7 linked regions of the Homo sapiens genome follow. The protein of the gene in region 3 purifies or fractionates together with the protein of the main gene of each other region. This does not show direct contact. Each region holds a gene or a part of one and is shown on either strand. Other genes may lie near its edges. The genes, in order: MCM6, VANGL2, TRAIP, ZNF212, RFC5, MCMBP and RNF20.

Region 1 (3,500 bases), on a different chromosome or scaffold from region 3:
AAGATTCAACTATTGATTTAGGCGCATAAACAATTTTAACGTTCTTAGTAATGTTTGAAATAAAAGAATGTTCTAGATTATCCAGTTATCCAAAACTCTTCTCCCATACAAATCTTTTTATTACCACCAAACAAATAATGGAATTATTCAGAATTTTTTTTACAGTTCCCTTTCTCAGCCCTCTCTGAAAAAACAAATTGCTGTTCCAGAAAAAAAAAAAAAGTTGTAAAATTTAGGAACTAAGGTAGATGACAGGTTCAGTTAATTTCCATATAACACACTTACTTAAATTCCACTTTAATATACCCATTATACCTTATCCCAGTACAAAAGGGTAGGTTACCTTGGGTTTAAACTGTCTTGCAAAGAGAAGATATCTTCTGATATCATCGAGGGAATAGACACGATCAATTGATTCCTCAATTCTTGAATGCAAATCTACTATGCGCCTGGCAATGGCATAATCTGTAACCTAATTCAAAACAAAAAAATCACTTTGATAGTCACAGCAATATCTTCTCCAGACTATCCCAGGCAATAAGAAATGATTTATCGCCAAAAACAAGCTCTAATATACCACTTAAAGAAGTATTAATGGGTACCAAGTTTCTGATGAAAGTTTGGGAACAGGTGGATTTAAAATCAAACGTTTAAATGTATACCATTGCCCCACTCTAAAACTATACCTGAAGGAATTGATTGGCTTTAAAAACAATAGTAGGGTAAAGTGCAGTGGCTCACACTTGTAATCCCAACACTTTGGGAGACTGATGTGAGAGAAGAGCTTGAGGTCAAGAGTTTGAGACCAGTCAGGGCGACAAACTGAGACCCTCCCTGTCTCTACAAAAAAACTAGCTGGGCATGGTGGTGCACATGTGTAATCCCAGCTACTCAGGTGGCTGAGGCAGGAGGATCACTTGAGCCCAGGAGGTTGAAGGGGCAGTGAAGCCATGATTGCACCACTGCACTCCAGCCTGGGCAACAGAGTAAGCCTTATCTCAAAAACAAAACAACAAAAATAGCAGAACTAACATTTATAGGGCCCTCAGTGTATGAGACACTGTTCTCTTAGGCAGGTCTTAGAAGAATTAACTTATGCAATCCTCACAAAAATTTTATTAGGTAAATGATATTATCCCCATTTTATACATGGGCAAATTGAGGCCTAGGAAGGTTAAGTAATTTATCCAAGGTCACAGTTAAGTAGTGGAGCCAGGATTTGAATAGTCTAGCTTCAGAGACTGTGCTCTTAGCCACTAAATTTTGAAGATATTCATCCCAGAATACTGGAAAAAAAAAAAAGACCCCAAAATATGCAACTTGCTCTCAAATGGTTCAGGAAAAAAGTGTGCAGATATATACAGACAGTAAGCAATAAAGCAAACAGGGTAAAATGTTATTATGTGAATCACGTAAAGGGTATATGGGTGTTCTATGCACTATTCCATTTCTTGCAACTTTTCTGTAAGCTTGAAATTATTTCTAATTAAGAAGTTGTCTGGGCGGAACACAGTGGCTCATGCCTGTAATCCTAGCACTTTGAGAGGCCAAGGCTGGTGGATAGCTTGAGCTCAGGAGTTCAAGACCAGTCCAGGCAACACGGCAAAACTCGGTCTCTACAAAAAATACAAAAGTTAGCTGGGCATGGGGGCCTGCACCTGTAGTTCCAGCTGCTCAGGAGGCTGAGGTGGGAGGCTGGCTTGAGCCCAGGAGGCAGAGGTTGCAGTGAACTGAGATCATGCCACTGCACTCCAGCCTGGGCAATACAGCCAGACCCTGTCTCAAAATAAATAACTAAAATAAAACAGGCTGGGCCCGGTGGCTCACGCCTGTAACCTCAGCACGTTGGGAGGCCAAGACGGGATCACCTGAGGTCAGGAGTTTGAGACCAGCCTGGCCAATAAAGTGAAACCCCGTCTCTACTAAAAATACAAAAATTAGCCGGGCATGGTGGCACACGCCTGTGATCCCAGCTACTCAGGAGGCTGAGGCAGGAGAATTACTTGAACCTGAGAGGCGGAGGTTGCAGTGAGGTGAGACGGCAGCACTGCACTCCAGCCTGGGTAACAGAGCGAGACTCCATCTCAAAAAAAAAAAAAAAAAAAAAAGAGAAAAAGAAAAAGAAAAAGAAAAAGAAAAGGCTTTTTGGCCAGGTATGGTGGCACATGCCTATAATCCCAACACTTTGGGAAGCTGAGGTGGGCAGACTGGTTGAGCTCAGGAGTTTGCAGCCAGCCTGGGCAACATGGCAAAATCCTGTTTCTACAAAAAACTCAAAAGTCAGCCAGACACAATGGTGTACATGTGTGGTCCCAGCTACTCGGGAGGCTGAGGTGGGAGGATTGTGTTAGCCCAGGAGGCTGAGGCTGCAGTGAGCCATGATCACGCCACTGCAGGAAAGAGTGGGACCCTGTCTCAAAAACAAAACAAGCCGGGCGCGGTGGCTCACACCTGTAATCCCAACACTTTGGGAGGCTGAGGTCGGTGGATCAACTGAGGTCAGGTGTTTGAGACCAGCCTGGCCAACATGGTGAAACCCTGTCTCTAGTAAAAATACACAAAATTAGCCAGGCGTGGTGGCACACGCCTATAATCCCAGCTACTCAGGAGGCTGAGGCAGAAGAATCACTTGAACCTAGGAGGCGGAGGTTGCAGTGAGCCAAGATTGTGCCACTGCAGTCCAGTCTGGGCAACAGAGTGAGACTCCGTCACAAAACAAAACAAAACTAAAGAAAACAGTTTTAAAAAAATCTTGAATGTTTTAAAGGTTTATAAATTGATCTTTTAAAGGTTTATAACTTGATCTGCTACTAAAGCTACTTTAATGAATCATGAACAAACATAAATGTATGAAAATCAGACAACTCAATTATCTGGTAATTAAATATGTCTCTCTTGTGAAGGGAAAAAAAGTGAACCAAACCAAACCAAACCAAACCAAACCAGGTGTGATGGTGCAGGCCTACAATCTTAGCTATTCAGGAGGCTGAGGTGGTAAGGTGGTTTGAGGCCAAGAGTTCAAGACCAACACGGGTCTTGAACTTGTTGCCGTTGCTACAAAAGGATGAAAAAATTAACCAGGCATGGTGGTACAGAGCTGTAGTCTCAGCTACTTGGGAGGCTGAGGCAGGAGGATCACTGGAACCCAGGAGATTGAGGCTGCAGTGAGCTATGACTGTGGCACTGCCTGGGTGACAGAGTAAGACTTTGTCTTTAAAAAATAAATAAATAAAAATCCAAGCCCTCCAAACACTCACAAAATGGAAGGCTACTTTTATTTAGATAATATTTAAAGTTCCACTGTAACAAAGAGCTGTGCACTGTACCCAATAAAATGTAGAACCTCAATGCTGAATGATTTAAAAAGTACAGCCTAAAATATTAGTTCCTACAAACTGTCATTTTATAGTTCTGTGGGCATCTGAAGTGCATTATTAAATATTTAAGTACACATAACTCTAATAATTAAACTAACATATCAGAATCCAAGTAAATCTACA
Region 2 (3,500 bases), on a different chromosome or scaffold from region 3:
CTAAACCCTACTTACCCTAAAAAACCAGACCCCCTGGGCCGGGCGTGGTGGCTCACGCCTGTGATCCCAGCACTTAGGGAGGCCGAGGCAGGTAGATCACCTGAGGTCAGGAGTTCCAGACCAGCCTGACCAACATGGTGAAACCCCGCCTCTCCAAAAAATGCAAAATTAGCCAGGCATGGTGGTGCATGCCTGTAATCCCAGCTATTCGGGAGGCTGAGGCAGGAGAATCACTCGAACCAGGGAGGCAGAGGTTGTAGTGAGCCAAGATCGCGCCATTGCACTCCAGCCTAGTCAACGAGCGAAACGGTTTCAAAAAAAAAAAAACCAGAACCCCCTCCCTAGACCCACAAACAAACACACCCTCTCTCTCTGACCAGGCTGAGGGAGCCAAGAACACTCTGGTGAAAACAGGAGTCTGAAGGACATTGTTAGGGGCTGTGAGAAAACCCTACAGACAATAAGGACCAGGCTCCTCCCATTCACAAACAAGACCCCACGGGCCATGGTGGCCGGAGCCTACAGTCACTCCTTTACCCCAACCCCCATCCAAAATCATGGCCCAGCAAGGAGAAAGAGACCCACCCCAGGAGAGGTTTCTGCCCAGATGCTGGCCCCGCCCCAGGCTTATGACACCAAGGTGCTCCTCCTGGAGATGAGATCGTTCTCTGACTCCCACCCTCAAGGGTAGGCTTCTCTACTCCTCAGGCTGACACTGGACTCATGTTTGCTTTTCAGAAAACAGGGGAATTACTCAAGTGCAAGATTAAAGGCAATAATGAGCAATCAGACCGAACTGGAATGACAGTAGGGGAAGGTGAAGAGACTTTGGGAAAAGGAAGAGCACTGAAGTCAGACCTGGCACAGCCTTTTACGAGCTATGTAATCTCAGGTGAGTCGCTCCCCTTTTCCAAACTTCAGTTTCCTTATCTATAAAATGGCAATAATAGTGCCTACTTCAGAAGGTTAAGAGTTTTCAGCAAAATAATGTATGCAGAATATTACAGATTCTGGCACACAATAGATGCTTAAAAAAATGTTAGTTCCCACCTTTTCTCCTTTAGTGGGTCCACAGCGAATCCCCTCCACTTCCTGCTCCCATAACCTCACTGTAAGGAGAAACACCCCAAAATAAGATGGAACCACCTCTAGGTGCAGGGTTGTCCCTGTTCTAAATTAGACCACATCCAGGTACTGCCTGAGAGAGCAACCAACATGCCTCTTCCTCCTCTCTGCTTCTTTCTTCAGAGGCCCTTGGATCCCCCACCTTTCCTCCTCTCCTTCCTCCTTCCTCACTTACAGTAAAGCAGACCTGGGTTCCAATCACCTCCCACTCTCCTCTAGGCTCTAAGCCCAGCTGTGTGTGGAGCGGCAGGGGAAGGAGGCCCCAAGCCTCCCACCCTACCCAGCCCCCAGCTTCATCCCACTCTCCCCTCTCCCTGCCCCACCCTGATTACCAGGATATCCTCAGGTCTGCTGATTCCAAGCCTGCTTCTCTCAAACCAGTTCCCAGCTGTTATGTCTATAATTACCAATCTTGCCAGGGGCATCCGACAAAGCACAGCAAAACCTCATTTCCAAAGGGCCCCACCATAAAGGGCCTCTGCCTCCTACTCTGTACCAAGCAGGGTAGAGACAAGGAATGCAAACATTCTCCCTGGCCCACCACAGTTCTATCCAGACTACAACAGAGAAGGTGAGAGAGGGCTGCCCAAGCCACATCACCAAGAGACAGGATAAAGAAGGGGAGGGCCGCCGTAGGGTAGAATGTGAGTAGGACTTAGTCCCAGGCCTTTCCTTCACCTCTGCTGCCAAAATCTCATCATGCACAGGGTTACCCACCTGTGGAAGGTAAAAGGGAAAATTTCAGGTCAATTCAGAGAGAGGGGAAGCTGATGTCAAGTGAACAGGGAGATGGCTCCCCACAAGGATGAGGGTTGATGCATACAGGAGTGAGCTGCCCAGGAAAGAGGAGGAAAGAGCAAGTTTTAAAAGTCCCATCCCCAGCCCAGACCCTGAGAAGAGGCAATAATACCCTAGCCTCTCTTCTCCCCTAATACCTCCAACTCTACCAAGCCCATAGCACAAGCAGGAAAGGGATGATTAACTTTGTTTTATAGACAGAGAAACTGAGGCCAAATCCCCACTTCATACTGCAAGGTACAGGACTACCAAATACCCTGTGTGCCTTCTTGCTCACGCTCAGCCTCCACCAGGAGTGCCATCCTAAGACCCTTCCTGTTGGCCTAACTCATCCTTTAACCAGGTAAAGTCTGTCCACACAAGGGAATAATATTCAGCTATAAAAGGGAATGAAGTACTAATACATGCTACATGCTACCGTGTGGATTAACCTGGAAAACATTATGTTAAGCGAAGGAAGCCAGATTCAAAAGGTCATGCATTCTATCATTCCATTTGTATGAAATATCCAGAATAGGTACATCCATAGAGACAGGATGCAAATTGGTGGTTGCCAGGGGCTGGGGTAAGGGGAAATGGCGACAATTGTGTAATGGGTATGGGTTTTGTTTCGGGATGGTGCAAATGTTTGGGGACTAGACAGAGGTGGTTGTTGCACAGCACTGTGAATGTACTAAATGCCACTGTTCACTTTAAAATGGTTTATTTCCTATTATGTGAATTTCACCTTAATTTTTTTAAAATCCAGCTAACAGGGCATCTCCTGCAGGAACCTTCCCTGGCACCTCACCCCAGGGCCAAGCACTCTTCCTCTATGCTCCAGTGGCCTCCTGAACACACCTCCACACAGCACTCACTGGGCTGCAGTGAATCAACATGTTTTCACATGTCTCCCCTGGGAAAACATCTTATTTGCCCCTCCATCCCCTGTGCTTCACACTGTGCCTGGCAGATAGGAGAGAGTGCCTAATGTGGTCGGCCAAAGGAAGATCAGAACCAAAGCCTAGTTCTCCTATCCCGACTCCGACCTCTCTCCCTTAATGATGATTATCCCTCAGAATCCGAACCATCCAGCTAACATTTACTATGTGCCAGGAACTGTGCAACGTGCTTTCTCTATTATTTCATTTAATCCTCATAACCCCAAGAAGTAGGGCCTATTATTAATTCCATTTTACAGGTGAGGCTTCAAAAAGTTACCAGTTTTGTCTGATGTCACGGAATTAGACAGTGGCAAAGCCAGAATTTAAAAGCAAACCAGGGAAGAAAGCCACTTGGTGGGGGACCAGGGATTCCTTGTGGAAGGGCTCAGTCTAGGCTTGGAGGATGTGCCTTAAGACACCTAAGAGGCTGGGGAATGGGGTTTATTACTTGCCCAGATCACACCACTGTTAAGTACTAATTCCAACCAACTCTGACTCCTTTCTCTGGCCTCACAATGTGATGAACACTTGAGGGAAGGAGAAGACTGGAGTTCCCTAAAACTCAGAGGGGATCAGATCTCTTCCTTTTCCCTGCCAAAGCTTCTGTTAGTCAAGTTCCCTCCCCATTAACTGGAAGGACCTGGAAACCAGATG
Region 3 (3,500 bases):
AGGCGCAGTGGAATACTACACAGCAAGAATAAATGAGTCTACAGCTAAGAACAATATTATGAATAAATCACAAAAACATAACACTGAGGAAGAGAAGCCAGATACAAAAAGTTATATTTTGTATGATTCTATTTACACAGTTTAAAAGTAGGCAGGCCAGGCCCAGTGGCTCACGTCTGTAATCCCAGCACTTTGGGAGGTCGAGGCGGGTGGATCATCAGGTCAGAAGTTTGAGACCAGCCTGACCAACATGGTGAAACCCCGTCTCTACTAAAAATAGAAAAATTAGCCGGGTGTGGTGGCGCACGCCTGTAATCCCAGCTACTTGGGAGACTAAGGCAGAAGAATCGTTTGAACCTGGGAGGTGGAGGTTGCAGTGAGCCGAGATCACGCCACTGCACTCCAGCGTGAGGGACATAGTGAGACTCTGTCTCAAAAAAAAAAAAAGTAGGCAAAATTCATCTATGCTCTCAAAGTCAAGACAGTAGCTATCTTAATATGGGGAGGTGGAGGGAGGTGTTGGTAGGGGTTGGAAGAGCATATAAGGAGGTTTCTAGAAGGTTTCTAGAGCTGATAATAGTCTGCATTTTTTTTTTTTTTTTTTTTTTGAGACAGAGTCTTGCTCTGTCAGCCAGGCTGGAGTTCAGTGGCACGATCTCGGCTCACTGCAACCTCCACCTCCCAGGTTCAAGCAATTCTCCTGCCTCAGCCTCCCGAGTAGCTGGGGTTACGGGTGCACGCCACCATGCCCAGCTCATTTTTATATTTTTTTAGTAGAGACAGGGTTTCACCATGTTGGCCAGGCTGCTCTCAAACTCCTGATCCACCCGCCTCGGACTCCCAAAATGCTGGGATTACAGGCATGAGCCACCATGCCCGGCCAATAGCCTGCGTTTTCCTGTTTTCTTTTTTTTTTTTGGTGGGGGGACTTTCGAGACAGGGTCTCACTCTGTCACCCAGGCTGGAATGCAGTAAAGCAATCATGGCTCACAGCTGACTCTACCTCCCAGGCTCAGGTGATGATCACCTCAGCATCCTGGGTAGCTGGGACCACAGGCACATGCCACTATGCTCGGCTAATTTTCTGTGTTTTTAGTAGAGATTTCATCATGTTGCTCAGGCTGTTCTAGAACTTCTGGGCTCAAGCAATCTGCCTACCTCAGCCTCCCAAAGTGCTGGGATCACAGGCGTGAATCAACACGCCCAGCCATACCCTGTTTCTTGATCTGAATTCTGGCTGCATAGATATGTTCAATTTGTAAACATTCTGTAAGCCATATACTTAGAATATGTGTACTTTTCTGAACTATATTATACTTCAATTTTAAAATGTTCTTTTTTTGAAATGGGGTCTCACTCTGTCATCCAGGCTGGAGTGCAGCAGCACAATCATGAGTCACTGCAGCCTCAACCTCCCAGGCTCAAGCGATCCTCCTGCCTCAGCCTTGCAAGTAGTTGGGACTGCAGGCACAGGCCATCATGCCCAGGTAATTTATATTTTTTTCACTTTTTTGTAGAGATGGGGTGTCACTGTGTTGCCCAGACTGGTCTTGGACCCCTGGGCTCAAGCAATCCAGCCACCTCCCAAAGTGCTGGGATTAAAGGGGTGAGCCATCATGCCTAGCCAAAAAAACACTTTTTTTTTTTTTTAAGACTGAGTCTCGCTCTGTCACCCAGGCGGGAGTGCAGTGGTGCAATCTCGGCTCACTGCAACCTCCACCTCCTGAGTTCAAGCGATTCTCCTGCCTCAGCCTTCCAAGTAGCTGGGACTAGAGGCGCCCGCCACCATGCCCGGCTAATTTTTTTGTATTTTTAGTAAAGACGGGGTTTCACCATGTTAGCCAGGATGGTCTCGATCTCCTGACCTCGTGATCCACCAGCCTCGGCCTCCCAAAGTGCTGGGATTACAGTTGTGAGCCACCGCGCCCAGCCAAAAAAACATTTTTTTAAGTAAACAGGTACACAAGAAAAAAAAGCACTATGAAAACAAACCAGAAGAAATGCCCACAAAGACTTTAGGTAGGCCAGGTGCAGTGGCTCACGCCTGTAATCCCAGCACTTTGGGAGGCCGAGGCGGGCAGATCACGAGGTCAGGAGTTCAAGACCAGCCTGGCCAACATGGTGAAACCCCGTCTCTACTAAAAATACAAAAATTAGCCAGGCACGGTGGCGAGCGCCTGTAATCCCAGCTACTCGGGAGGTTGACGCAGGAGAATTGCTTGAACCCAGGAGGTGGAGGTTGCAGTGAGCCGAGATCGGACCATTGCACTCCAGCCTGGGTGACAGAGCGAGACTCTACCTCAAAAATAAATAATAACACAGGATAAAAAAGTTAATGGAATAGAGGCAATATATGAAGAGATAATGGCTGATAATTTTCCAGAACTGATTAAAGAAATTGCTCCACACGGCCAGGCGCGGTGGCTCACGCCTGTAATCCCAGCACTTTGGGAGGCCGAGGCAGGCAGATCATGAGGTCAGGAGATCAAGACCATCCTGACTAACACAGTGAAACCCCATCTCTACTAAAAATACAAAAAATTAGCTGGGCATGGTGGCAGGCGCCTGTAGTCCCAGCTACTCGGGAGGCTGAGGCAGGAGAATGGCGTGAACCCGGGAGGCAGAGCTTGCAGTGAGCCAAGATCGTGCCACTGCACTCCAGCCTGGGTGACACAGCGAGACTCCGTCTCAAAAAAAAAAGAAAGAAAGAAAGAAATTGCTCTACACGTTAAAGAAATCTAATGAATCCCGAGCAGAATTTGTAAAAAGAAATTCGGCCAGGCACAATGGCTCATGGCTGTAATCCCGGCACTTTGGGAGACCAAGGTGGGAAGATCACCTGAGGTCAGGAGTTCGAGACCAGCCTGGCCAACATGGTGAAACCCTGTCTCTGCTACAAGTACAAAATTTAGCCGGGCATGATGACACGTGCCTTTAGTCCCAGCTACTCGGGAGGCTGAGGCAGGAGAATTGCTTGAACCAGGGAGGTGGAGGTTGCAGTGAGTTGAGATTGTCCCACTGTGCTCCAGCCTGGGCAACAGAGCAAGACTCTGTCTCAAAAAAAAAAAAAAGAAAAGAAAAAGGTAAAAAGAAATTCATATTGGATACACTATACCAAAACTGCAGAAAGCCAAAATCAGAGAAAATTCTAAAGGTAATGAGAGTCTGAGGATAAAGTTCCAAAGTATGCTTAAAGGAGTAACTGATAAACTAAAATCTGACTTCAATAGCTACAACGGAAGCTAGAAGTTGGATAAGGGCCGAGTGTGGTGGCTCACACCTGTATTCCCAGCACTTTGGAAGGCCAAGGCAGGAGGATTGCTTTAGGCCAGGAGTTTGAGACCAGCCTGGCTAACATAGCGAGACCTTGTCTCTAAAAACAATAATAAAATAAAATAAAATAAAACAGATGAAAAAAGATATACCATGCAGTCACCAAAAGACAGCTGAAGTGGCTATACTAATAGCAGATAAAATGGACTTTAAATTAGACAAGATAG
Region 4 (3,228 bases), on a different chromosome or scaffold from region 3:
CTTCTACTTATTTGCTCGCTCTCCCCGTGGAAAACTGTAATGTCTTTTAACGGGTCTCCTTTGGTCCCAAGTGTTCTTACAAAATGTTTTGTGTACATGCATTTTTAATTTATATAAATGGTGTTACATTATAGATCTCAATTTCTTACCTTTTCCCCTCGGCATTGTGTTTAAGATGGATCCAGATGGCTACGCATATATCTAAGCCAATGCTCGTAACAGCTACCTGGCACTCCCTGGGGTACCCACATTTCACCTACTCTTTCTACCTCCCAATAGCCATCACCCAGACTGTCTCCAGCTCTCCACCATCATAAGTACAGTCCCCTGAAAATTTTCACCCATGCCACATCTTGTCTTCTGTCCTAGGTTTAAGTAAAAGTGCAGGTTAGGCTGTGCCATCAGTCCTTCCCTGTCATCACTCCAGGTCAGGTGCCTCTCCTCCACCTTGGCCCCAGGAGAGTGTTCTTGACAAACGGAGAAAAACATCCAGTATGAACTTTTTTTTTTTCTTTTGCTAGTAGCAAGTTTTATTCTAAGCAACCGCAAATCATCCAAGGGGATGTTCACATATGACCCCAGAGCCCACTCCCATCCCCCCAGACAGCAGCGGGGCACACATTCAACACTCCTGAGACAAGCCATCTGTGTGCTTTTTCTGTACCCTCTCTGGAATAGGCAATCCCAGAATGCATTTGGAAACTGTAATCCGAACCACCTCAAGTAAGGATTGGTGTAATAGGAACAAACTCAAATAACCACTGGTACAAGGTGAACAACCTTAAGTAACAAAGTAGTTTTCTACTCTGGGAGGCTGCAGAACATAGCCAGGAGGAGGTGGGAAGAGGAGAGGGGTATGCCGAGACACCGCAAGTCCCAGACCACAGCCATACCATCAGCAACTTCACTGGAATCTTTCTTCTCAACAGGGCTGCAGGGTCTACCCCTCCGACTCTTTTCCTCTTGGTCCTTTTGAGACAATTTGAGAGCACCAGGCACTGCACGAGGGAACCTAGCACCGTGTCCCCTGCTCTCCGGCCTAAGTAAGCATCAGTGGGCTAAAAGAGCCCCATTAACAACTCCCTCCTAGAGGGTAGGTCCAGTCCCCAAGTTAGGAACAACTTCTACAACTCTTAAAATGTAAAAAACAAGTGTTGGGCTGTATTCTTTAAAAAATCAACTAAAATCTAATTCCAAAAAAGGTTCTTCAGAGCAGGGCTAAGCAGTTCATTTAAATTATTTCTTCTACTTATTATTAAACAAAGAGATTATAAAACAAGAAAAAATGGAGGGTTATACTTCCCAGAACTCTTCCAGGCAGCTGCTCACCCCTATGGCCCGACTCAACCCCGTGGGAAGACATGAAATGCCGGGACGAGCCCTGGAACCAGCCACCAGTCCCTGTGGGGTCAGAACGCCAACCCCAGCCCACAAGCATTGGCATGAATGAGAAAACCAGAGACCTGAAGGTGCCAAGAAACAGCAAACTTGGCAGCAGGATGAAGACCTGGCCTGGACTCTTCTTCCACAGGGTTTTCAGGACAGCCTTTGGGCTTGGCTTGGTACTGGGACAAGGGAAGGCAATCACAAACAACTGCCCTCAGGAAGAACTCAGTCCCTGACTGCAGTGTCTCTTCGGGGGAACCAATGCCACCCCCCTCCATCCCCCAGACGGGCGAGGGGCTGCACCCTTAAAGCAGGCCATTGGGCCTTCCGGGCTCCAGGGCCAGCCCACCCCGCTCCCGCTGGTGGATCTTCTGGTGCTGCAGGAGGTGCTGCTTCTGGACAAAGCTCTTCTCACACTCAGTGCAGCTGTAGGGCCGCTCACCCGTGTGGATGCGCTGGTGCCGCACCAAGTCAGATGGGTGACTGAAGCTCTTGCCACAGTAACCACAGATGAGGGAACTCCGGCTTTTCCTCCAAGGGATGTGGCCAGGCAGGGCAACCAGGCTGTTGGGTGAGAACCTCTCTTGGACATGCTGGCCGGCACTGGGCCCCTCCTGCAGGTGGCAACGCTGATGGGTCACCAGGCTCACCTTGCAGCTGAAGCTCCTCAGGCACACATCACACTGATGCAGCTTGGCCTTTTTGGTCTGTGGTTTCAGCCGTGGCCTGGGCCTAAGGCTCTCCTCTGGCTCCTCAGGTGTACAAGACCCCCACCCAGAGTGGCTGCGCAGATGTGTGGCCAGCTGCTGCTTATAGCGGAAGGTGATCTCACACTCAGAACATTCGTAGGGGCGGGAAGTGTCCTTTTTCAGCTTCAGGCCCTGCCCACATTCCTGGTCCAGCTGTACCTGCCTATGAGATTTCTGCTTCGGGCAGCCCACAGTTCTGCTGCTGCTAGGAACTCTACTACCAACAGGCTCCTCTAGAGTAGAGTCCCCAGGACCTGTTTCCAAGAGGACAGAACTGCCCTGACCACCCCAGAGTTCGGTCTGCTCTGGGCTCAGGAAAGCCTGCTCTTCAGCAATGCATGAGAACTCTCCAGGAAGATCCGCAGGGCCTTCCTGTGTATACTGTAGCTCCTGTTTGATCATGACCCCACCTGCTGCAAAGTGGAAGAAGACCAACAAAAAAGATCACATTCTAGTACCTTTGGTTTCTTCAGGACCAAACAAACATCTGTGAATTTCAGAAGCACCCCAGGAATAAGTGAATTAGGATAACGTGGAGGAGGATGACACTGGCTAGGTTCCAAGACTTCTATAAAACTATATTCATGTACAGTTTTTCCAATGTTGATTGGAAATATAAATGTATTACTCTTATAAAACAATACTGTAAATGATAGTTCTCCAAGCTTGTCTACAAATTTATATTTAATCCCTGTGAAAAATGACAGAATACACTGTAACAACTATACTCAATTAAGAGTGTTAAAATAACAAATTTGAATGATTAAAGACAAACTAAACCTACAGCTTAAGAATTCATGTCCAGCTCTGTTCTTCCTCCATAACCTCCCAAATTACCTACTGACAAGTGCTTTTCCTGCACTGCCTTCCCTCCTGAAGCTCTGACATACCTACGCTCAATCTCCAGCAGGTTTTGACTACCGCCTCGTACGGTACTCTATTCTGTAGGGCATGAAGAATAATGATTGATGTGGCCGTTAGTCTTAAAGACCCCACAGGGTGGTAGGAGTTGAGGCATATGTAACAGCTGAACTAACGACAATCATAAAGGAGTCCAGAACAAGCAGATGCCAGATGAGGTCACCAAGTCAGC
Region 5 (3,016 bases), on a different chromosome or scaffold from region 3:
GGCTGTGGCATCCTCTGATGAGGTGACTCTTCCGGTATTGAATATGTGGGTTCCCACTGCCTTGTGCCCATAGAACTTTGCTGCTCACCTGCATTGCTGCCTTGGCAATTTCTTCTTGGCTCCCTGCAGCTTGGTGGCAGCTGTGACAGCCACTGTGATCTCCCCTTTCCCCCTCTGTCTACACAGAGCACCAATATGGCCTTTGGGAAGGTGACAGAGGAGACTGTCTACACCTGCACCGGGCACCCGCTCAAGTCAGACATTGCCAACATCCTGGACTGGATGTTGAATCAAGATTTCACCACAGCCTACAGAAGTATCCTTTCTCATGACCTCCTGGCCACCGAGACCTGAAGGTGGCCCCAGGAGTTCAGGTTGCAGCCAGCACCCACACCTTGCTGGCAAAGGATGACTGGCTGCAGGCGACTCTGGTCAGCTTGTTGTGGGAGTGAGATGTCTGTAGGTGGAGTGGGTACTTGTCTTTAGCACTCCAGAGTTCTTCTTGGAGGGCTCTGACCTTCAAGTCAGGGTAAGGCTTGAAGCAGCTTCACTCACAGATGGGAGAAAAGCTTAGGCCTTGGCATTGAAGATGCAGGAATTTTCAAGTGGTCATGATAGTGATAGCTCTTGTGCTGTGAAATGAAAGGCTAGGAATGGTGACACAAAGCCTTTTTGGAAATGCATTTGGGGCTGGGTGTGGTGGCTCATGCCTATAATCCCAGCACTTTTGGAGGCTGAGGCGGTAGATCACTTGAGGTCAGGAGTTCAAGACCAGCCTGGCCAACATGGCGAAACCCCGTCTCTACTAAAAATACAAAAATTAGCCGGGCGTGGTGGTGGGTGCCTGTAGTTCCAGCTACTCGGGAGGCTGAGGCATGAGAATTGCTTGAACCCGGGAGGCAGAGGTTGCAGTGAGCCGAGGTCATGCCACTGTACTCTAGCCTGGGTGACAGAGGGAGATTCCATCTTAAAAAAAAAAAAAAAGAAAGAAAGAAAAAGAAAACGCAGTTGGCTTTATTCTCTACTAGAAGGAGTTACAACTCTATCTTTCAGAAAGCCCTTACTGAAGATGAAACAAAGAAAAATAAAGAATTGGAGTCCAACACGTGCAGCTTCAAGTTGAAAGAGAAACAGTTGTGTTGGGATTAAAAGCCTTACTTTAAAAAGTCTCTTGCCCGGGTTTGGATTCAAAATTCTCTGCAGTATGTTTGTTCTGGAACTTGTTCCCTTTGCCTTAACTGCTCCTCTAGATATTACAGAGTTGAAAACTCTGAAGGGGTTGGCACTGCATGATATCCTGACAGAGATACACTTGTTTGTGCATAGAGGTAACTTACATTATCCCCCAGCTGAGAAGCTGTGGAGAAGGTAGCCTGCTTTGGGGTTAAGGATGGTTAGGACAGGAGGCTTCATTCTTGAAGCAAAGAAACTAATGAATTGTAAATCAGACCCTTCTTGTTAGCAGTTCTGTCTTGCCACTGTTTAAAATTTTGTTCCAGAGCTGGGTACGGTGGCTCAAGCCTGTAATCCTAGCACTTTGGGAGGCCAAAGCAGGCAGATCACCTGAGGTCAGGAGTTGAAGACCAGCCTGGGCAACATGGTGAAACCCCGTCTCTACTAAAAATACAAAAAATTAGCCTGGCATGGTGGCGCACGCCTGTAATCCCAGCTACGTGGGAGGCTGAGGTGGGAGAATCATTTGAACCTGGGAGGTGGAGGTTGCAGTGAGCCAAGATTTGCCACTGCACTCCAGCCTGGGCGACAGAGCTAGAGTTTGTCTCAAAAAAAAAAACAAAACAAAACACAAAAAACGTGTTCCATAAACCCTCTTTTAATATCTAGAACTGCTGGGGAAAGTGAAAACTCCTGGAGGCTAACTTTATTTCCTCTAGGGGTTTATATTTTATAGCAGTAAGTAGTATATATTAATTCACATTTCTAAAAAAAAAAAAAAAGTCTGTCTATCTATCTGTCTATCTAGATATATATTCCCAGAAAAGAAAGAGAAGATATGTAAACCATGTAAACCAAAGCAGGCTTAAGGAAAACATCTTAAGTTCCACACTTGCCTGTACCTTCTACACAGAGAATTGGTTCTCAACCTTGGCAGCAGATAGGGGCACTCCAGACAAATTAAGTCAGCTTCTCGGAGGACAACCAGGCATCCGTATTCTCTAAGCTCCCCAGGTGACTTGTGTAGGCTTTCGGAGAAGCTCTTCCTTCCACAGTGGCCAACTGCAAGATGGAGACTTAACCGGGTCAATGAATGTTGGTTCTGCCCAGGCCTTCACAGGCCTCTTCCTGGCTGGCCCATGCCATGCCTTCTGCCCAAGGTATGGTTGGCTCAGGCCCAGCTCTGCACCTTGATTGTGGAAGCTGAGCATAAACCAACTTTAAAAAATCAGTTGTTTGTGCTTGGTTTTTAAATGGGGACAGGATCGGTATAGTGGCTGACGCCTGTAATCCCAACACTTTGGGAAGTCAAAATGGGTGGATCACTTGAGCCCAGGAGTTTGAGACCAGCCTGGGCAACACGGTGAAACCGCATCTCTACAAAAAGTACAAAACAGCCAGGCAAGGTGGCGCACACCTGTAGCCCCAGTTACTCAAGGGTCTTGAGGTGGAAGATCCCTCAAGCCCAAGAGGTCAAGGCTGCAGTGAGTCATGATCACGCCATGCCATGGCACTCCAGCCTGGGCAAGACAGTGAGACCCCGTCTCAAAATAAAGTAAAATATAAAATAAAAACAGCAAGTGGGAACTCAGCATTCAAGTTAACTTGTAGAGCTACCCAGCTGCTAAGAGCAGTGTGATCTTTGGTGCTCTTAGGATCACTTTGGTATCTGCTCATTTTCCTTTTTGTCTACCCTATAAAGCACAAAATCGAGTGGGTAAAAAGTATGAAACCAGCACTGTTTCTACTTTCTTAGAGGTCTGGTATCTAGTGAGCAGGCTGAGGCCTCAGGACTAGTTCAGTGTTAAGGATTTCATGTTGAAACTCATTTGTCCTCTGTGGG
Region 6 (3,500 bases), on a different chromosome or scaffold from region 3:
ATTTTAGCTGTTCTAATATGCAATATCATGGCTTAAATTTGCATTTCCCTAATGGCTAACAATGCTGAACTCTTCTCAGGGGGATATTTGCCATCCTTGTATCCTATCTGGTGAAATGTCTATTTAAGCCTACTTAAATCTTTTGCCCCTTTTAAAATTGAGTTTTTAAATTACTGCTGTGTTTTCTTATATATTCTGGATTCAAGTTCTTTTTCTGATACCGGATTTTCAAATATATTCTCCCAGTGTATAGCTTGTCTTTTCATGCTCCTAATAGAATTTTTTTTTACAGAACAAAGGTTTTTAATTTTGATGAAGCCCAATTTATCAAATTTTTGTTTTACGCACTGTGCCTTCGGTGTCATGTCTTAAGAACTCATTGCCAAACCCCAGGTCACAAAGATCTGTTTTCTTCTAAAAGTTTTATAGTTTCAGGTTTTATACTCAGATGTATGATCCATTTTGAGTTAATTTTATATAAAATATGAGGTAAAGGTTGAGGATTTTATTTTTCCATGTAAATGTTAAATTGTTCATGTCTTTGATGAAAAGAATATCCTTTTTCCATTTGAATTAGCTTTTGTATCTTTATTAAAATGCAGCGAGGGCCAGGCGGGGTGGCTCACGCCTGTAATCCCAGCACTTTGGGAGGCCGAGGCGGGCGGATCACCTGTCAGGAGTTCAAGACCAGCCTGGCCAACATGGCAAACCCCCGTCTCTACTAAAAATACAAAAATTAGCCGGGCGTGGTGGCACACGCCTGTAATCCCAGCTACTCGGGAGGGTGAGACAGGAGAATTGCTTGAACCCAGGAGGCGGAGGTTTCAGTGAGCTGAGATCGCACCACTGCACTCCAGCCTGGGAGACAGAGTGAGGCTCAGACTCAAAAAAAAAAAAAAAAAAAAAAAAAAAAAAAAAAAAAAGCAACGAAGACACAGGAATAAACCTTGAAAACATTATGCTAAGTGAGATAAGCCAGACGTAAAAGGTGAAATATTATTCTACTTGGGTGAGTTTGGATAGTTTGTGGCTGTGATCAGCAGAATAATGACCCCCTCCCACCCAACCAAGATACTGATGTTCTAATCCCCAGAACTTGTAAAGATATGTTACATAGGAATTAAGGTAGCAGATGGAATTAAGGTTAATAATCAGTTGAACTTAAAAAAAAAAACAATCTGGGTGGGTTCAATGTAATCACAACGGTCCTTAAATGTGGAAGGATGTGGCAAAAGAGGAAGTTAGAGTAAGATGTGAGAACAACTCGACTTGTTGTCTTTGAAAACGGAAGGGGGCCACAAGCCAAGAAATGTGGGCAGACTCTAGATGCAGGAAAAGAAAAGGAACAGATTCTCTCCTAAAGCCTCCACAATGGAATGCAAGTCCTGTCAACAATTTGATTTTATCCCAGTAAGACCCATGTCAGACTTCTGTCTCCAGGACTGTAAATAAAAACCTTTTGTTTTAAAGTCACTACATTTGTAATTTATTACAGGAGAAATAGAAAGCTAATACAGTGGTTTTTGAGGAACTGGTCCATTTCATCTAAGTTGATGAATTTCTATCTGTAGAGCTGTTTGTATTATCCTTTTCATGCCTGTACAGTCTACGGTGGTTATCTCCTCTTTCTTTTCTAATATTGGTAATTTGTCTTCCTTTTTTTCTTTTCTACTATTGGTAATTTGTTTTCCTTTTTTTTTTTCCTTTGCCAGTATGGCTAGAGGTTTACAATTTTATTGATTTTTTTTTTAAAGAGCTTTGAGTTTCACTGATTTTTTCTTTTTTTTCTGTTTTCTATTTCATGGATTTTTGTTCTCTATTATTTCTTTCTTCTGTTTAATTTGGGTTTATTTTGCTCTTCATTTCTAGTTTCATAGGTGGAAGCTTAAATTATTCACTTGAGACCTTCTCTTCTAATTAAGGCAGCTAATGCATCTAAGCATGTCTTTGGCTGTATCCCACAAATTTTGGTATGTTGAGTTTTCATTTTGGTTTAGTTCACAATATTCAAAGCTTTCCTTTGAGAGTTTTTAATCCATGGATTGTTTAGAAGTGTTCTTCTTATATATAAAGTTTACTATTTGGTTTATGACCCAGAATGTGGTTTATCTTGGTGAATTTACATGTGCACTTGAAAAGAATGTGTATTCTGCTGTCATTAGGTAAACAAATGTCAATTAGATCTACTTGGTTGACAGTGTTGTGTAGTTTTGTGTTGTTCAGTATTCTTTTTGATTTTCTACCCACTATTCTGTCAAGTACTGAGAGAGGAGTAGTAAAATATCTAACTACAATTGCAGATTTGCCTATTTCTTCTTTTATTTCTGCTGGTTTTTGCATCATACATTTTGAAGCTCTGTTGCTTGGTGCATATATAGTTAGGTCTTCTTGGTGAACTGACTGTTTTAACATTATATAATGTGCCTCTTGTTCTCTTCTCACACAACCTTTCTTAAAAACATTTTAGGCCAGGCGTAGTGGCTTATGCCCGTAATCCCAGCACTTAGGGAGGCCAAGGCAGGCAGATTACCTGAGATCAGTAGTTTGAGACCAGCCTGGCCAACATGGTGAAACCTCATCTCTACTAAAAATACAAAAGTTAGCTGGGCTTGCTGGTGGTACCTGTAATCCCAGCTACTTGGGAGGCTGAGGCAGGAGAATTGCTTGAACCTGGGAAGTAAAATGGTGCAGCCACTGTGGAAAAGTTTGGCAATTCCTCAAAAAGTTAAATATAAAATTATCATATGACCTTGCAATTCCATCCCTAGGTATATCTGGGAAAGAACCAAAAAGCTTACATTCACACAAAAACTTGTACATGAATGTTTATAGTAGCAGTATTTATAACAGCCAGGAAATAACCTAAGTGTCCATCAGCAAATATATGGATAAACAAAATGCAGTATAGACATACAATGGAATGTTATTTTCAGCCATAAAAAGGAATGCAGACTGGGTACAGTGGCTCACATCTGTAATCCCAGCACTTTGGGAGGCCGAGGCGGGAGGGTCACTTGAGGCCAGGAGTTTGAGTGTAGCCTGGGCAACATAGTGAGACCCCAAATCTACAAAAAATGATTTAAAAATTAGCTGGGTGTGGTAATACAGGTAATACATGCCTGTAGTCCCAGCTACTCAGGAAGCTGAGGCTGCAGGATCACTTGAGACTGGAAGTTCAAGGCTGCGGTGAACCATGATCTTGCCACACAGCATTCCAGCCTGGACGACAGAGCCAGGCTCTATCTCTTAAAAAAAAAAAAAAAAGGAATGCAGTACTGATGCATACTATGACATGGATGAACCATGAAAATATCATGGTAAATGAAAAGAAGCCAGACCTCAAAGGCCACATGTTGTATAATTCCACCTACACGAAACGTCCAGAATAGGTAAATCCATGGGCAGAAGTATAGTTGTTGCCAGAGATGGAAGACAGAAGAAATGGGAGAGACTACTAAAGGTATGGGGTTTCTTTTTGGAGTGATGAAAATGATAGGGGT
Region 7 (3,500 bases), on a different chromosome or scaffold from region 3:
GGGCAAAGCCAAAAATAAGAATATGCTCAGAAAACTCCCAAGGTTATTCTGATTCATAACCTGAGTTAAGAAGTAGAGACTGAATTTTAGTCCTCTCAATATCCTAAGCACTGAGGACAGGGCTAGAATACAATAAAATTCAATAAATGTTTAGTGAATTTATAAACAAGCCCATAAATGCAATTCTTTTGAATCAAAGACCAAACAAACAGACAGTACTGCCCTGGCAGGTTAGACAGTGCCGCCCTGGCAGGGTTAGACAGTGCCGCTCTGGCAGGTTAGACAGTGCCGCCCTGGCAGGTTAGACAGTTCCGCTCTGGCAGGGTTGGACAGTACTGCAGTGGCAGGGTTAGACAGTGCCACCCTGGCAGGGTTAGACAGTGCTGCCTTGGCAGGTTAGACAGTGCCGCCCTGGCAGAGTTAGACAGTGCCGCTCTGGCAGGTTAGACAGTGCCGCTCTGGCAGGTTAGACAGTGCCGCCCTGGCAGGGTTAGACAGTGCCGCCCTGGAAGGGTTAGACAGTGCCGCCCTGGAAGGGTTAGACAGTGCCGCCCTGGCACGGTTAGACAGTACTGCCGTGGCAGGTTAGACAGTGCCGCTCTGGCAGGGTTAGATGAATTTATAGACCTTACTCTATAAGGCCTATACTTGCTCTAGAAGGCCTTACCTTACTCTAGAAGGCCTATCATATCATAGGGGATTTTGTAAAACACAACACAACTCCAAACCTCCAAATAATGAATTACCCTAAATATAAAAGACTGTATAGTGTTATTGAGGAATGGCGTGGTAGAAATTCCACAGGGAATGGGGAAGTAGAAACTACTGTATTGATGATGTCCTAGGAATTTGAGGAATGTCAATTTTCAGTCTAAGTCAGGGGGATGAACTTTCAAACAAGTTACAACTGATGCTATAATTCATACTTTATACATCTTTATCTCTTAGAAAGTTCAGCTTACCAATGGCAATTGCCTTTTGTGTTACAAATAATGGCATGGCTATTTGTAATGTTTCTACTTTTTAACTTAAACCCGACCTTAAAATGCATGCCATTAAATAGTAATTTTAAAGTCGTTTGATATACTACTCATTTTATTCCCTTTTTAAATAAAACAATTGTTTCACTTGATATTCATTTATGAAATCAAGTTTAACATAGTCTATGCACATGGCATATTAATTACCATATTACTAAAATTTAACAATACCTTCTAACTATTCAATTAGAGCCCAAGGAGAAAGAAGCATATGTGCACACACAAAGCACCATTATTTTATATTAGGTGACAGGGAGGTTCACATCCATTCATTCCCCATTGACTAAACATCTGCTAGATGCCAGATGCAGTGCTAGAAACTAGAGAAACAAAGAAGAGTGAGCCAAACTACTGAACCAAGACACAGTTTAGCTGGGGACATGCAAGTAGATGTAAGATATTAATACAAAAGTACAAAAGTCTGAGAGGACATAAAACACATTGTTTAGAATGGTTATCTTTTGAGAAATGAGAATGGGGAAACTTTTGTAGTCTACTTATTTGTATTTCTGACTTGTATATTTTTAAACAAGTATCTGTTTTCCTTATAATAAAATACAGAAATGCATAATCTAATGGAAAAGCAAAAGAAACCCGTGACCAAATTTTCACAGGCCTTCTACAAGCTGCTTAATTCTGTTGACAACTTAGCCCAATTACCCTTAAAAGCAAAATTACAGAATAATACAATTCTTATATGCTCATCCAATGGTTCAACCTCCATTACATTCAACTTATTTCCTTCAGAAATGAAAGGTTAAACATCTTAATGATAAGCAGGGAAATTAAGATATTACAACTAGACCATGATTATTATTGAAAACATGAAATCAAGGCATTTTTTTTGCATTTGAGCAAGGTATTTATGCCACAAATGACTAAAGATGTAACCTAGCTACACAAATACTTTACTGTACAAATTTAAATTTTTGCATTAACTCTGAGTAACACAATTATCCCAAATAATTATTTTATTTCAAATACTCTTTCATCCATAGAATATTTTCTAATAATCCTTTTAACCATACAGATCATCTGTCAACTCTAAAACCTGCACCAACTCTTTTTAAAAACATTAGCGATAATGAAAAATAAGTTAAGTAAAAATTAACTTTTTCAAGTCAAAATTCTGTAACTAATAATTAAATAATATAGTTGTTATTTAAAATAAAGTATTATCACTATAAATCAATAGCCTACATACACGATAAACAGATCCAGATATTAGAGCTGTTTATTAAATAATAAAGTTAATTCTGCTATTTACAAAACTGTCATTAATAGAGTATATCAGTATAGAGCTGATAAACTCTTTCCTCAGCTTATTAAAGGACTGTCATGTGGCTCAAAATGAGAAGCACTGATAAAAGATTAATATGCCATAATGAAGACATTACCAGTAACACTGAAGGTTAGAATTTCTAAAAATTTAATTAAAATATATAGTCCAGGCACAGTGGCTCATGCCTGTAATCCTAACACTTTGGGAGGCCAGAAGAGAGGATCTCTTGAGGCCAAGTTTGAGACCAGCCTGGGCAACATAGCAAGACTTCCTCTCTACAAAAAGGTTAAAATATTAGCCAGGTGTGGTAGTACGTGCCTATAGTCCTAGCTATTCGGAAGCTGAGGCAGAAAGATTGCTTGAGTTCGAGGATTCAATGGGCTATGATGGTGCCACTGTGTTCCAGCCTGGGTGACACAGTGAAACCTTATCTCTTAAAAAGTAAATAATAAATAAATAAAAATAAATATGTAAGCTTGCAAACTACAAATTAGCATGCAAAAATGAATTCTTATTCCTCCTCCACTACTCCCGGCCTCCAGGGTCTTGCCTCACCTCCACTGTTTAGCTTCCGGGATAAGAGCTCCACTTTTTCTTGCAATTTATCATAAACAGTCACAATCTGGGACACGGCTCGGCGGGAAGACTCCACACGTTCCTGCAGCTGAGACTCCATCTCTTCACTGGAACTGCTGGCCAAAGTAGCAAGGAAAGAGAAAGCTGGCTCTTGCCCTTCCCCTGAGGACACAGGGGGAAAAAAAGAAGCCCCCCAAAATTATAAACTGGAAATAACAAAATCCATTTTTTTTCCCTCAAATGGAAAGCCTCAAAGCAGAGCTCTACTTTAAAAACCCAGATAGCATGCAGTGATAGAATCCATCACGAACACTTGCCTCTCTCTCGGTCATCTTTACGCTCCTGATTGCTATCAGAGTCTGGTTCTGGTTCAGGCACAACAAGGGCTTTTCGTTCTGTGAGTAGGTCTCCCAAGCCCTGCTCCAGATCATAACGTTTAAGGATGATACGGATGTTTTCATCAAACTGGAGAAGGGTAGGTACAATTATGAAGAAACAAAGGACACAACTTTGGAAATGAAGAGAACAGTAAGGAGAACTAAATTGGTCAAATAAAAATCTGAACAAATAAACAAGTTAGCTACCTGACTCCAGTATCGGTT

What was found.
Region 1: the proteins of TRAIP (region 3) and MCM6 purify together in Homo sapiens (affinity purification with mass spectrometry, with the first as the bait; one large-scale study listed by BioGRID). This does not show direct contact.
Region 2: the proteins of TRAIP (region 3) and VANGL2 purify together in Homo sapiens (affinity purification with western blotting, with the first as the bait; one study listed by BioGRID). This does not show direct contact.
Region 4: the proteins of TRAIP (region 3) and ZNF212 purify together in Homo sapiens (affinity purification with western blotting, with the first as the bait; one study listed by BioGRID). This does not show direct contact.
Region 5: the proteins of TRAIP (region 3) and RFC5 purify together in Homo sapiens (affinity purification with mass spectrometry, with the first as the bait; one large-scale study listed by BioGRID). This does not show direct contact.
Region 6: the proteins of TRAIP (region 3) and MCMBP purify together in Homo sapiens (affinity purification with mass spectrometry, with the first as the bait; one large-scale study listed by BioGRID). This does not show direct contact.
Region 7: the proteins of TRAIP (region 3) and RNF20 purify together in Homo sapiens (affinity purification with western blotting; one study listed by BioGRID). This does not show direct contact.

What each region holds. Positions count from the first base shown.
Region 1 is NC_000002.12:135,852,444-135,855,943, forward strand, and holds part of MCM6 (DNA replication licensing factor MCM6), read right to left. Parts: intron 473-3,500; coding exon 344-472; intron 1-343. UniProt on the Homo sapiens protein: Acts as a component of the MCM2-7 complex (MCM complex) which is the replicative helicase essential for 'once per cell cycle' DNA replication initiation and elongation in eukaryotic cells.
Region 2 is NC_000001.11:160,403,564-160,407,063, reverse strand, and holds part of VANGL2 (vang-like protein 2), read right to left. Parts: intron 3,161-3,500; exon of another isoform or gene 2,672-3,160; intron 937-2,671; exon of another isoform or gene 739-936; intron 1-738. UniProt on the Homo sapiens protein: Involved in the control of early morphogenesis and patterning of both axial midline structures and the development of neural plate. Plays a role in the regulation of planar cell polarity, particularly in the orientation of stereociliary bundles in the cochlea.
Region 3 is NC_000003.12:49,850,065-49,853,564, forward strand, and holds part of TRAIP (E3 ubiquitin-protein ligase TRAIP), read right to left. Parts: intron 1-3,500. UniProt on the Homo sapiens protein: E3 ubiquitin ligase required to protect genome stability in response to replication stress.
Region 4 is NC_000007.14:149,252,879-149,256,106, reverse strand, and holds the end of ZNF212 (zinc finger protein 212), read right to left. Parts: intron 2,549-3,228; coding exon 1,692-2,548; 3' UTR 501-1,691; downstream 1-500.
Region 5 is NC_000012.12:118,026,703-118,029,718, forward strand, and holds part of RFC5 (replication factor C subunit 5), read left to right. Parts: intron 1-186; coding exon 187-316; intron 317-1,250; coding exon 1,251-1,328; intron 1,329-3,016. UniProt on the Homo sapiens protein: Subunit of the replication factor C (RFC) complex which acts during elongation of primed DNA templates by DNA polymerases delta and epsilon, and is necessary for ATP-dependent loading of proliferating cell nuclear antigen (PCNA) onto primed DNA.
Region 6 is NC_000010.11:119,862,844-119,866,343, forward strand, and holds part of MCMBP (mini-chromosome maintenance complex-binding protein), read right to left. Parts: intron 1-3,500. UniProt on the Homo sapiens protein: Associated component of the MCM complex that acts as a regulator of DNA replication.
Region 7 is NC_000009.12:101,540,353-101,543,852, reverse strand, and holds part of RNF20 (E3 ubiquitin-protein ligase BRE1A), read right to left. Parts: coding exon 3,483-3,500; intron 3,364-3,482; coding exon 3,216-3,363; intron 3,061-3,215; coding exon 2,878-3,060; intron 1-2,877. UniProt on the Homo sapiens protein: Component of the RNF20/40 E3 ubiquitin-protein ligase complex that mediates monoubiquitination of 'Lys-120' of histone H2B (H2BK120ub1).